Linked DNA regions of Homo sapiens: all the other regions are linked to region 2. Evidence: fine-mapped expression QTL. A gene starts in region 2. Each other region holds a variant in brackets. All regions are shown on one strand. Distances are between the middles of the regions. Region 1 overlaps LOC105369669. Region 2 holds the start of H2AJ (H2A.J histone). Region 3 overlaps LOC105369669.

Region 1 (4,246 bases), 36 kb after region 2:
CCAGAGGCGGAGGTTGCAGTGAGCCAAGACTGCACTACTGCACTCCAGCCTGGGTGACAGAGTGAGATTGTCACAAAAACAAAAACAAAAATTTGAGGCATTATACATTCTTTTATTGCACTAAGCTTTTGAAATCTAGTGTGTATTTTACACATACATCTCAATCAGGAGACTTTTCAATTTACTGGATTTCATAAAGTTTACAGTTGAAAATGTTTCACATATCCAAGTTATTTCAAACATACTTTAGAATGTTTCAATAGTTGAATCAAGTACAAAAAAAATTTTTTTTCTTTACTATGGACATTTATATTGACAAAACTTGTTTATCATTTTAAAGAATTGATCTAACTTTGAAGTAAAAACATATAAGATTCAAAACTAGTTCCATCCAGGTTAAGTAAATTCACTAACTGTTGTGTTAAATTGGTATTATTAACATTGATTTCAAAGAAGTATTGCATAAATTGAAAATCAACTCGAAATTTACCAATATCAAAACAGGATTCTTCAAATTTTTCTTGCAGCTTTTATGGCCAATTTGCATAATGCTGTGATTGATTCCCAAGCTTTTTTTGATAAAAGCTTCTTTATATTTGTTTCGCAAGGTGTCAGAGCCCCGGCAATGGAAGGTGGTAGGCTCGGAGGTAGAAAGAAGAATTTACCCACAGCAGTATAGGTTTGAAAGGGAAAGTTTTATTAGATAGAAAGAACACTGCAGCAGAGTGCAGTGGGGCACTTCAGCAAGAGAGGACTGAGCACACCACGATGTATTTTTCCTTAGGGGCATTTATGGACCTTGAAGAGGGAGCTTAAGGGTAATTTGGGCCATATTACCCACCTAGGCCATAATAAATAATTACATTTGTAGACATTTTGGTGCCTTGATGTCAGCAAGGGTTGCACAACGAGTTTCGACATGTGTGCATTCCAGAGATGTATAGAAATTTTTGTTACTTATAAATTTTTGGGAAAGAAGTCAGGTACTCAATGCCAGCTTTAGATAATAGGGACATGTAATTACTTCTAAATTCCTCAGAGAAGGAGTTTTGCCTCTGGATGGTCTGCTTAATGGCCACCACCAGGTGGTCTTTGCTCTCCTCATTTTCCCCTAATAAATATCTTGGTCAAATCTTTGACCCTTTGTATACCCTCATGCTCCTGTCTACCTGCTGCCTATTAGGGTCTCCAGAAAGGGAAAACAGCACGGTGAAGGGGAGCATCAAATCTGTCTGGCTACTTCTGCATGAAGGAAATGAAGGGTCATGAAAAACTTGTCCATGGGCCAGGGTGGAAGGAATGGTGGGGGACCAGATTCCATCAAGAGGCCCCATGTAAATGGAAGTTGCTGTTGCAGGCTGGTATTGGGCTTGCAAGGTCATCTATAGGTGAAATCATTATAATCTAGAAGATATAAACTTAATGAGAGTGGTAAAAAGGCAGGGACCAAATAGTAAAAGAAGAATGATGAGGAATAAAGGTCCAAGGAATGGGAGAAGCCAAGTGATTTTTGGAAACCAACCAGTAAAGGTTTTGGCCCAGTTTTGATTACTTTGAGAAAGTATATGCTAGCTCACTTTGGCTATCACTTATTTTTGCATTTCATGTCCAATATAATCTCACGGGAAAACATCCACCCAGTCCAGTCTCCGTGATCCTTTGATGTCTTCTGACAGAGCAAGTGATGGCTCTCTAGTGAGTGACTTTGATAAAAGCCTGTCTAGTCAAACCCCAGAAGAAACTGAACATTGGTGGATGATGGATTTGGGTTCCAAATGGACTATGAAT[G/A]TTGTGTCAGTCACCAACTGAAGAGAATGTATTCATGGACAAATAAAGACACTTGCGATTTTAATTGGGTACTCACTTGCTCAGAGTGGCAAGACAAATTCCAGGTAAGGGTTGAAATTTTAAGTGTTAAAAATATCAAGTTAACAACTCATTAAGCTTTCATATCATTTTATGCCCATTCAGCAGTAGTTCTTATTTCCACTTATAGTTTGAAGAATTAACTGCAGACAGCGTTCTTAACATTTGTATAATCTAGCTATATGGAAATACACTATTCTCAAGTGAATATTTAATATATTCATCAAGTTGGTCTTTCAGCTTGCTAAAATGAAACTCATTTCTTGCAGGTAAAATGGGCATTTAATAACATTTACCAGTAATTTGCTTACAACAATTAATTCAGTCAAAATCACCCAAGCAGTTGATACATATTATTATATACTACATCTTTTTCTAGAATTAAAAAATTAATGTGTAGTGCCAGCCCTAGATGTAAGTTACATATATCAACTCTATCCAATTTTGTCAGCCATAAAACTTACCTTTTTCACATACTTCTAACTCTAACAATGTGAGAAATGTAGATCATTGCAATTATACCCACAAGGCAGATGGCTACATGCAGAATGGATAGCAGAATCTAGCTACTTACGCTAGCCACATGGTAGACGTTTTTTCCTTTGTTTTTGCAAAATTGCAATATAAGTTGCATATCGTTAGAGTGAAAGATGTAAAGAACCCATAGAAGCAGTGATGAAGGACATTTATATTTTCAACTTACAAAAGACCTTAAAATTGCCTATGTGGAGCAGAACTGAGGAGGGCAAACATCGTAAAAATTTTGTTCTATTTGATTTGGCACATATACTCACAGTACTTTGTTAACTTCTTAAAAATATCTATTTGGAAAAACAGTTTATAAATATGAGAATAATGTAATGATTACCCAGAAGCCTACAAAATTTCCTTTTTATTGTTATCTGTAAACTGTTTGCAAGGTATTTTAATTTCCTGTTGGTCATTAATTATTGCTACAACTGCATAGTTAATGTAGTTAATATTTCAATATTATCTCTAATGTTGTCTCACAGGAAACATATAACTCAGTCTATCACCTTCAATCAATCCAGATCACTTGAGAAAGCCATTGTATTAGAAAAAATTACATATATTCAAAAACCAATGAGAGGCAGATCCCTGGTATATGGTGGATTTGGGCTTTTCAGAAAAATTTGCTTCAGTCACCAACCAAAGAAATTGTTGCCACGAATAAACAAATGAAGCTATAATTCTAGTTGGAGATTTATTTGAAAATGGTACCACATTAAATCCCAGGTACGAATCCAAGTTTTGAGTTCTAGAAGGATCATGGCATGCTTATCCTTTTTGTTTTCACCAACCCTGAGAGGTAGTCTACATTCCAAGATTAGAACATAATGAAGTTAGAAGGGCTGCATTCTATGAGGCAGGGAGAATTAGACATGGAATTACAGAGCTTTTCATTGCAATTTCCATGACTGTTATTTATGTGAACTTACACAAATCTAAGGATCACTCTGAGCCACAGTTTCTTTATCCTATTCTGAAATCTCTTTAAAGGACTTGAGTCCAAGCTCTCTCCCACACTGCAAGACCCCACTGCAATGGCTCCTATAGCTGCTGCCATGGCCTCCTCCAATCAAGTCAGCCTTACTATCTTAAAAAAAGTAAATAAGGGCAGCTAAACGCCATGGCAAATGTATACCTATGTAACAAACCTGCACGTTCTGCACATGTATCCCAGAACTTAAAGTAAAATTTAAAAAAAAGAAAAAATAAATAAATAATAACATCTCTTTAAAAATAACTGTCTTTCCATTTTTGTGCCATCACCAATTTAGTTACTGGGACTACACCAGCAGACACAATAGGTAAAAATCCCTGCTGTCATGGACATAACATTCAACTGGGAATAAACAGAAAAAAATCAGATATGTGTGTGTGTGTGTGTGTGTGTGTGTGTGCGCGTGCGTGCGCGCGCGCACGCGCATGTGCCAAATAGCTCTAAATACAGTACAGTCAGACAGGGTGGGGGAAGGGGTTGCAATTTTTTTTTTTTTTTGAGACAGAGTTTCACTCTTGTTGCCCAGCCTGGAGTGCAATGGCGCAATCTCGGCTCACTGCAACCTCTGCCCTCTGGGTTCAAGTAATTATCCTGCCGCAGCCTTCCGCGTAGCTGGGATTACAGGCATGCGCCACCATGCCCGGCTAACTTTGTATTTTTAGTAGAGACAGGGTTTCACCATGTTGGTCAGGCTGGTCTGGAACTCCTGACCTCAGGTGATCCACCTGTCTCAGCCTCCCAAAGTACTGGGATTACAGGTGTGAGCCACCGCACCTGGCAGGGGTTGCAATTTTTAATAGAGCGGTCAGAGAAGACTTTACTAAAGCAACATTGAGTAAAGCCTGAAGGAGGTGA
Region 2 (4,246 bases):
TTCCCAGGGGAAGGCAAAGGTGCTTTTTCTTATGAATGTCTTGATGTCCCTTGTCCTTATTTCTTCATCATTTTGGTAACAATCCCTCAGATGCCTCATCCCTTTAAGAAATTTAGACTCAAATGTCAAAACCATATATGCATTTTGTTCCACTGACCCCAAGTGGTAACTGTGAGTAGTAGTTCTAACAATGAGGCATTTTTTAAAAAGTCCTATTAATGTTTACCTATAATTTAACCTATAAGGATAAACCCATACCCCCATTGAACATGGTACTTTTTTCCATTTATTGTCTAATATGTGGCACACAGTAAATGAACAATCTCAATCCTTAAAACAGGTGTTATGACTTTTACATATGACAAAACCACAGAGTAAATAGCAGAACATCTCGAACCTGCCCAATAATTTGCCTCCTAACAGAGGTGTGTACGGCCTGACCTTTGTACACCTCAAAAATGGCAACATGGGAGAAGTAATTCCATCATTCATCCACACACAGCAGAGAGGTACAAGTACTAACAGAAGCTGATCTCTCATATTAACGTATGTATTTGTTCCTTGTCCCGTCTTCAGGAACCAATAAAAATAAAGTGAGCTCCGAGAGAGTGGAAATCTGGTTGGCCTCATTCACAGCTCTACTCCTATCACTTTGTACAGAGCCTGGCATAGACAGCTGTTCAATAAATACTGGGGACAAAATAAAGTCCATGTGGGAAAATGGGCCAGCCGCTACCAAGGATGAAGACATACAATATATACATATATTTTTGGGGAAGACTTCAATTCCGACTCACAGGAAAGATGAATCCAAAGATGTGAAATCTGTACTGGGATCTTTTTTGTGGGGTCTGTGAGCCAGGATGAAATTTGCTGAGGATGAAATAAATAGGAGTGTCAATTAAGGGCAGAAGATGATTACTAGTGTTAACTTTTCAATGTGGATTCCTGGTCTGAAATGTGTTTCCCCCTGCACTTACATATTTGGTCCTATCTTTCCTTACATGTTTATTAAAGCAATATTGTGCCATTAGGCAATGCAACTCCCAAAGACATTACTGGAATGAGGTCATTGCTTCAGGCTAGTGGGAGAATATAAGAGAGTTCAAACAGGTTATTTGTTGGGTAAGAACCCCTAAAAGCAAGAGGTTTTTGTTTTGTTTGAAAGCAAAGTCAAACCGATTCTCAAAGTGAATATGATATGATGAAGACAGGATCATTATGAAGCTAGAAACTTGACAACATCACTTTAAAAGCTCAAGCATATGTAACCCACGACTAAAGGCGCTGCAATGTTATGCAATATGACTGTCAGGGGAACGAATTTCCAACCTCATGACTCACTTATTGAACGTTTCCTTCATTAAAAAAAAAATATGAACATAAAAGTGCTATATAAAGATATCTGATATCCAAAGCATGAAAGCACAGCAGCTACTAGGCTAGGAAGAATCTCAAGTTGACATCGTGCCATCAGAGCCACCCTTCCAAGACGGAAAGTTACTCCACTTTTTGAAAAATATGGCCGCAGACACTTCCTGCCCCGAGCTCAGCTCGATCCGACGGTATCTTCCCAGAACTTGGTCCTGAGTGCTCACAAACTGGCAGGAGAGCGAAGGCTCTGTGAAAGGGAAGTAAAAATAATTCCGAAGGAGGCCTCACCGCACCGACTCTGCCTCCCCTTTGCCCTACTGACAGCGAGGTGGCTTCCACCCTGCCCACCTCCAGGCCACCCTCCCCTGACGCCTCGAGGGTGACCTGCGGACTAAAGCCGTCCAGAGTGGCTCAAGCCCACCCACCAGTGCCTGCTCCAGGGGTTTCCCGGTCGCCCCCCTCCCCTGGGGCCATCCGACATGTCCCCGCGACTACACAGCTCTCTCGACCAAACGATTTTCACCAACTTTATTGGCTCCCGCCGGGACCCTCGCCGCCCACCTCCCCGCTAGATGTCACCGGCCCTCCATGACATCCAGCACATTCAAAAGCATTGCGGGACGACCATGAAAAGGGCCTTTGCTGGGGGAGCCAGCTCCCTGAGGGCGGCGTCAGGGTCATTTGCTCTTCGTCTTCTGACTCTCCGTCTTCTTGGGCAGCAGCACGGCCTGGATGTTGGGCAGGACGCCGCCCTGAGCGATGGTCACTTTGCCCAGCAGCTTGTTTAACTCCTCGTCGTTGCGGATGGCGAGCTGCAGGTGGCGGGGAATTATCCTGGTCTTCTTGTTGTCACGCGCGGCGTTGCCAGCCAGCTCCAGGATCTCCGCCGTAAGGTACTCCAACACCGCCGCCAGGTACACCGGCGCCCCGGCGCCCACTCGCTCCGCGTAGTTCCCTTTGCGCAGCAGTCTGTGCACTCGGCCCACCGGGAACTGCAGGCCCGCGCGGGAGGAGCGGGATTTGGCCTTTGCTCGCACTTTGCCGCCCTGTTTCCCGCGACCGGACATGATCACCTCTCGCCTACAACTCCAGAGACGGAGACAAACCGCTCTCGGCGTCCGGTACCGGAATGCAACGTACCGCACCCGAACTGCCTCTACAAACTCTTTACGGCCGCGCGGCAGCCCCTTTCCATTGGCTCTGGTGACCAATGACAGGCAGGCTCCGCTCCCAACTAGCGCTCTGGAAGAGAGACCGCCTCCTCCAGCTCTCTCCAATCAATAGAGCAATCTCCGAATCCTCATTTACATAGCCGCTCACATAAATAACGAGGCCAGCCGGCTCAGTCTTTGGGGACCCAGATGAATTTAGCGGTTACGGGTTTTCCACGACCACGCTCGCTTCCAAGCACATAAACTCGTAGGAAATAAGAAAACATGGTTGGAAACAGAAAACAATCCAGAAGAAGAGCTACAGGGGTTGTCCGTAGACGTTGCTATGCTAAGTGGATGTTCTCATATAATACACCGTACTACTCAGGTAGGTTTCTGTCTCCGCAGCCCGTGCTGCTTAGGCGAAACAACAGCCTGTCCGCGGAATTCTGCCTGCCCAGGACAGGGTCCGTGGACTGTTTCTTATACAAGCGCCTTGCCTCCAGCTAGCTACCCAACAGTGTAGAGACCACCCTGGTCTCCCCGCAGGGTCCTGCGGCTCACAGCCAGCCAATCGTTCACTTTTGAGTCTGAAGCTAGAGTGATGACCAGACGTGAATGCTTCCTGTGCTGACGGGAGGAACAAGCTCGCCTAGCCAAAATATCTTTTGTCTTTGAGGCTATGGGCCTGCAAAGAGCCACTAGGTTTTATTGGAGAGGCCAAAGTCTTGGCCTTGGCTTGCTCCCCGCAAGCCAGGGCGCCACAGATCAGCGGATCGGGTCCTCTGCGAAGACGTGGAGGTCCCCCGGGTCTCTTTGTAAATGAGTCCAGAGACTAAAGTCAGAATGGCAGCTTATTCTTATATACCTGAATTGTGGACCCATGCTTTTTGAAACAAAAAGAGTGTTTCAAGTGTTTTGTTTTAATTAAAAATTACTTTCTCCTAATTCATCGAGGTCATTTCATTTTTACCTGAACATTTTCAGTAACACAGTTAACACCGATACGTGATGTAATGTTGAACGCTTGCTTTTTAAAATAAACATTTTATGTGGATTCATTTACATTTAAAGTAAAGCAAATTTACCTTCTCACTATCCGAATAAAGATTTGACTTCATTGAAATAACATTTTCAAATATTTATGTATATGTCATTACTGCCTAGAACAATGATGAACCCATACTGGGGACTCAATAAATGTCTTCAGAGCTATTGTCATGGTTTAGGCGGTCTTTCCGGAGCCAGTCTGCCTCAGCCTAAATCCTGGCTTTACCACTGAGCAGTGACCTTTGATAAGTTATTTGACTCCTCTACCTGTATCAAAGTGTTTTGAAAATTAAATACGTTAGTAAGCATCCAATAACTCTTAGATATACCAAATAAATGGGCATACAAATCTCTGATGCAGTTTTTAACGAGATGTTCCTGGAATGAGTTCTGTAAACTAGCTTAAATTTTTGCCTGTATCTTGGGGAATTTTCAAGAGTTTTTAAAAGTATTACTATTTTAGACACGATTTTTTTTCTTTTATTCCAATAAGCAAGAGATTTCTAATTTGAAAATGTTCTAGTCTTGATTTCTTAGAAAGCTTAACTATAAGTAAGTCAACCGATTTTACCATTACAATAATTTTTTTTTTTTTTTTTTGAGACGGAGTCTCGCTCTGTCGCCCAGGCTGGAGTGCAGTGGCGCGATCTCGGCTCACTGCAAGCTCCGTC
Region 3 (4,246 bases), 26 kb after region 2:
TAACTACAAGCTAAGTTTTTTACAATCAATAGCTAATTGCATTTACCAGTATTTTTCCTGACATCTGATTCACAGTTGTTTCTTGCATCCTGTTCCCTCTCCTGGACTCACTTGACATCTTTCTGAACCAGGGCCCTTTAGTATTTCTTTTAGCAAGAATGTGTGGGTTGCAAACTTTATCTTTGTATGTTTGAAAATGTCTATATTTGGTCTTTATTTTTTAATGTTAGTTTAGCTATTTATGAAATTCTAGATTGAGGGAAATTTTCTCTTAGCACTTTGGAACTATTTAATTATGGCAACTGTTATCGTAGCATGAAAAAGTAGCATGCTTTCCATCAGACTCTCAGTCTTTGAGGTGTTTTGCCTCTAGTACACTTAAAGATATGTGGGTTTGGCCAGGCGCGGTGGCTCACGCTTGTAATCCAGCACTTTGGGAGGCCGAGGCTGGTGGATCACGAGGTCAGGAGTGCAAAACCAGCCTGGCCAACATGGTGAAACTCCATCTCTACTAAAAATACAAAAAAATTAGCCAGGCATGGTGGCAGGTGCCTGTAATCCCAGCTACTTGGGAGGTGAGGCAGAGAATTGCTTGAACCCGGGAGGCAGGTTGCAGTGAGCCGAGATCACACCACTGCACTCCAGCCTGGGCAACAGAGTGAGACTCTATCTCAAAAAAAAAAAAAAAAAAAGATATGTGGGTTTCGATTTGGGAAAATTCGCGGCCACTTTCTTTTTAAATATTGCTTGTTTTTAATTTTCTTCATTTTTTACTTCTGGAACTCATAAAATACTAACATAACAAAATAATTATTAATAGTATAAACAGTATGCATAAGTATACTTATAGTTAATATTTTCTGAGTGCTTACTCTTTTTAAAGGGTGATTCACAAAAATTCTATGAAACAGGTGCTGTGTTTCCACCTGTTTTACGGATGAGAAAGCTAAGAACATTGGCTGATAAGTAAAAATAGCTAGCATCATACTGTCAGTAAACAATGGATTCAAGATTTAAATTATTATAATGTAGCTCCAGGGTCCGCACTATTAACCCCTTACCAAAGTACCTGGGTCAATCGCTCATGACCCAGCCACTTGGTTTTGCATCTTCTCTCTCTATGGCATTCTGGGTCGGGGCTCCATATACTCTTTAATTTTACTGTGTCTCTGATTACTTAAAGATTGTGTCCACATGACTGACTGGACTTCTCAGCTCCGTTCCAGGCTTAAATTGATAGCTTATATTTAATGCTCTTTGGGCTCTTGTGCACCTAGCAAAGGTTGGCATGGCCCTGGTCCTGGTATGGAGGCTGCCAGTCTTCTCTCTTCCCACTCTGAGCAGCAGCTTGATACAGGCCACACTTCCCAGCAGGGATTATACTTTGTTTTAAGCCATTGCTTCGGAGGTGTGAGGGCCCCCATTTAAGTTCCGTTCCTAGTTTCTCCCCAGATGGTGGGCATTAATGGATCATGTCACCTGCCCACCCACCACACCGCACCCTAAAATTTGAGTTTCTGGATCTTCAGTCTGTTTCTAGCAGGAAGGCTCATTCTCTCCTCACTCATTATTTATCCTAAAATGAGTTTATTCAAATTAATGTATTAATTTACCACCTAACTAAAGATGATGCTCGAATTTATGTTTCTTACCTAAACCTCTTTTGAAAGCATCAGACCCGTGTTTTCAATTACCAACATTTTCTGGCTATTTGGTTTTTAGCTCTTTGTAAATTGTTGTTTATCTTTACGTTTATTTTTTATTTTTTGTTAGGAGTCTTGGAGATTAGTGGGAATATGTGAACTCAACACACTCTCACAAGAAATTCTCCATTTAATCTTAGTGCTTCTTTCTTTTTTTTTTTTTTTTTTTGAGACGAGTCTCACTGTGTCACCCAGGCTGGAGTGCAGTGGCGCAGTCTCAGCTCACTGCAAGCTCCACCTCCCGGGTTCACACCATTCTGCCTCAGCCTCCCGAGTAGCTGAGACTGCCACCATGCCTGGCTAACTTTTTGTATTTTTAGTAGAGATG[G/A]GGTTTCACCGTGTTAGCCAGGATGGTCTCGATCTCCTGACCTCATGATCCACCTGCCTCGGCCTCCCAAAGTGCTAGGATTACAGGCGTGAGCCACCGCACCTGGCCTCTTTTTATAATTTAATCTTGATTTTTTTAATCAAAATAAAACATGTATTTAGTCTTAAAAATCCAATTGTTTTACAAAGTGTATAACGAATGACAAAAATGCTGCACCTATCCCTACACCCAGTTTCTGCTCTCCAGATATCAACCAGCTTTTTCTTCTGGTAATTATCACTATATTTCTAAATAACATGTAACAACTGCTACATCTAAACTTTTTAGTTTTGGGTTTCATCTATAAACTTCCTACCACGAAGGAGGAAAAATTATCTCTCTTACATATCCCTCCCTTCTACCTACTCATGAACTTTTCCAACCCCCATCCGTCAAGTCTATTTCAGTTTTTGGTTAAATCAGTATTCAAGTATTTATATTATTATAACTACATGAATATTATTCATAACTGAGCCATATATTTTATGATTAAATTTCTTGTAAAAATTTTTGTTTTCCCTGGAGTTAAAAATTATCGATCATGGTTGATCCTTTAATTCCCCCTACAGAAGTGAAAAATGTTTAATTTTTTTCTGAAGCCTTCTGATTCAGTCTGTATGGGTTGGTCTCTAGGTCTTTCAGAACTTGCATGTCTGAAAGAATTTTTATTCTCCTCTTACAATTGACTGATACTTTGAGTATAAAACATCATTTTTCCTTTGAATTTGAAAACATTTTTCTATTGTCTGCTAGTGTGTTAGTCCATATGCATCACTATAAAGCAATACTTGAGACTGCGTAATTTATAAAGAAAAGACGTTTCATTGCCTCATGGTTTCGCAGACTGTACAGGAAGCATAGTGTTGGTATCTGCTTCTGGTGAGGCCCTCAAGAAGCTTTCAATCATGGCAGAAGGCAAAGGGAAGCAAGCACATCACAGGGGGAGAGAGAGAGCAAGAGAGACAGGGGAAGTGCCACACCCTTTTAAACAACCAGATCTTACCTGAATTGATTACTGCAGGGACAGCACCAAACTATTCATGAGGGATCCACCCACACGACCCAAACATCTCCCACCAGGCCCCACCTCCAACATTGGGGATTACAGTTCAACATGAGATTTAGAGGGGATAAAGGTCTAAACCATATCAGCTAGTTTCCATCAAGCTATTGAGAAATTTAAAGACATTCTGATTTCTAATCCCATGTATTTGACTTTTTACGTCTAAAAGCTTTTAGAATTGTATCTTTCTAGCTGCGCTTTGAAATGCTTCATTGTTTGGTGTAGGTCTTCATTTGTTGTGCAGGGTACTTAGTAGGCCTGTTATTTCTTATTATTTATTTGATAATTTTCTCTGTTTCCTTTCTTCCCTCTTAATAGAAATCTATTATTTATTATTATATTTTATTCATTCTCTGCATTTTTTGCTGTACTATTGGAAGTTTCTTAAGCTTTATCTTTCATCCTAATGGAATTTTTTAATGGCTTTTTATTTTTTTGTGAGATGTTGTTTTGCTCTTTGAATATTGCTTTTTAAATAAACACATAGTTTTTCTTGTTTCAGGGTTGCAATATTATCTCATATCTTTGGGGCTGCTTAGATTTCTTTTTTCAATGCTTCATTGTTGCGGAAAGTCAGGGACCCTGAACGGAGGGACCGGCTGAAGCCATGGCAGAAGAACGTGGATTGTGAAGATTTCATGGACATTTATTAGTTCCCCAAATTAATACTTTTATAATTTCTTACGCCTGTCTTTACTGCAATCTCTAAACATAAATTGTGAAGATTTCATGGACACTTATCACTTCCCCAATCAATACCCTTGTGATTTCCTATGCCTGTCTTTACTTTAATCTCTTAATCCTGTCATCTCGTAAACTGAGGAGGATGTATGTCGCCTCAGGACCCTGTGATGATTGCATTAACTGCACAAATTTTAGAGCATGTGTGTTTGAACAATATGAAATCTGGGCACCTTGAAAAAAGAACAGGATAACAGCAATGTTCAGGGAACAAGAGAGATAACCTTAAACTCTGACTACTGGTGAGCCGGGAGGAACACAGCCATATTTCTCTTCTTTCAAAAGCAAATGGGAGAAATATCATCGCTGAATTCTTTTTCTCAGCAAGGAACATCCCTGAGAAAGAGAATGCACCCCTGAGGGTCGGCCTCT

What was found.
Region 1: its variant is fine-mapped to the expression of H2AJ in whole blood (TOPMed, PIP 0.96).
Region 3: its variant is fine-mapped to the expression of H2AJ in cerebellar hemisphere (GTEx, PIP 0.92).

What each region holds. Positions count from the first base shown.
Region 1 is chr12:14,736,349-14,740,594 of GRCh38, reverse strand. The region is part of intron 2 of LOC105369669; the gene reads left to right. Among named protein-coding and RNA genes, the nearest start is that of H4C16, 33 kb to the left of the region's middle. The variant G/A (reference allele first, on the strand shown) is at 1,789.
Region 2 is chr12:14,772,666-14,776,911 of GRCh38, reverse strand. H2AJ (H2A.J histone) reads right to left here and starts at 2,507. Exons shown (of 1, transcript NM_177925.5): 1 at 1,888-2,507. The coding sequence starts at 2,441. The coding sequence ends at 2,052. RefSeq lists enhancers at 1,397-1,546, 1,253-2,169, 2,057-2,216, 2,227-2,556, 2,747-2,956 and 1 more.
Region 3 is chr12:14,746,171-14,750,416 of GRCh38, reverse strand. All of the region lies in intron 2 of LOC105369669, which reads left to right. Among named protein-coding and RNA genes, the nearest start is that of H4C16, 23 kb to the left of the region's middle. The variant G/A (reference allele first, on the strand shown) is at 2,032.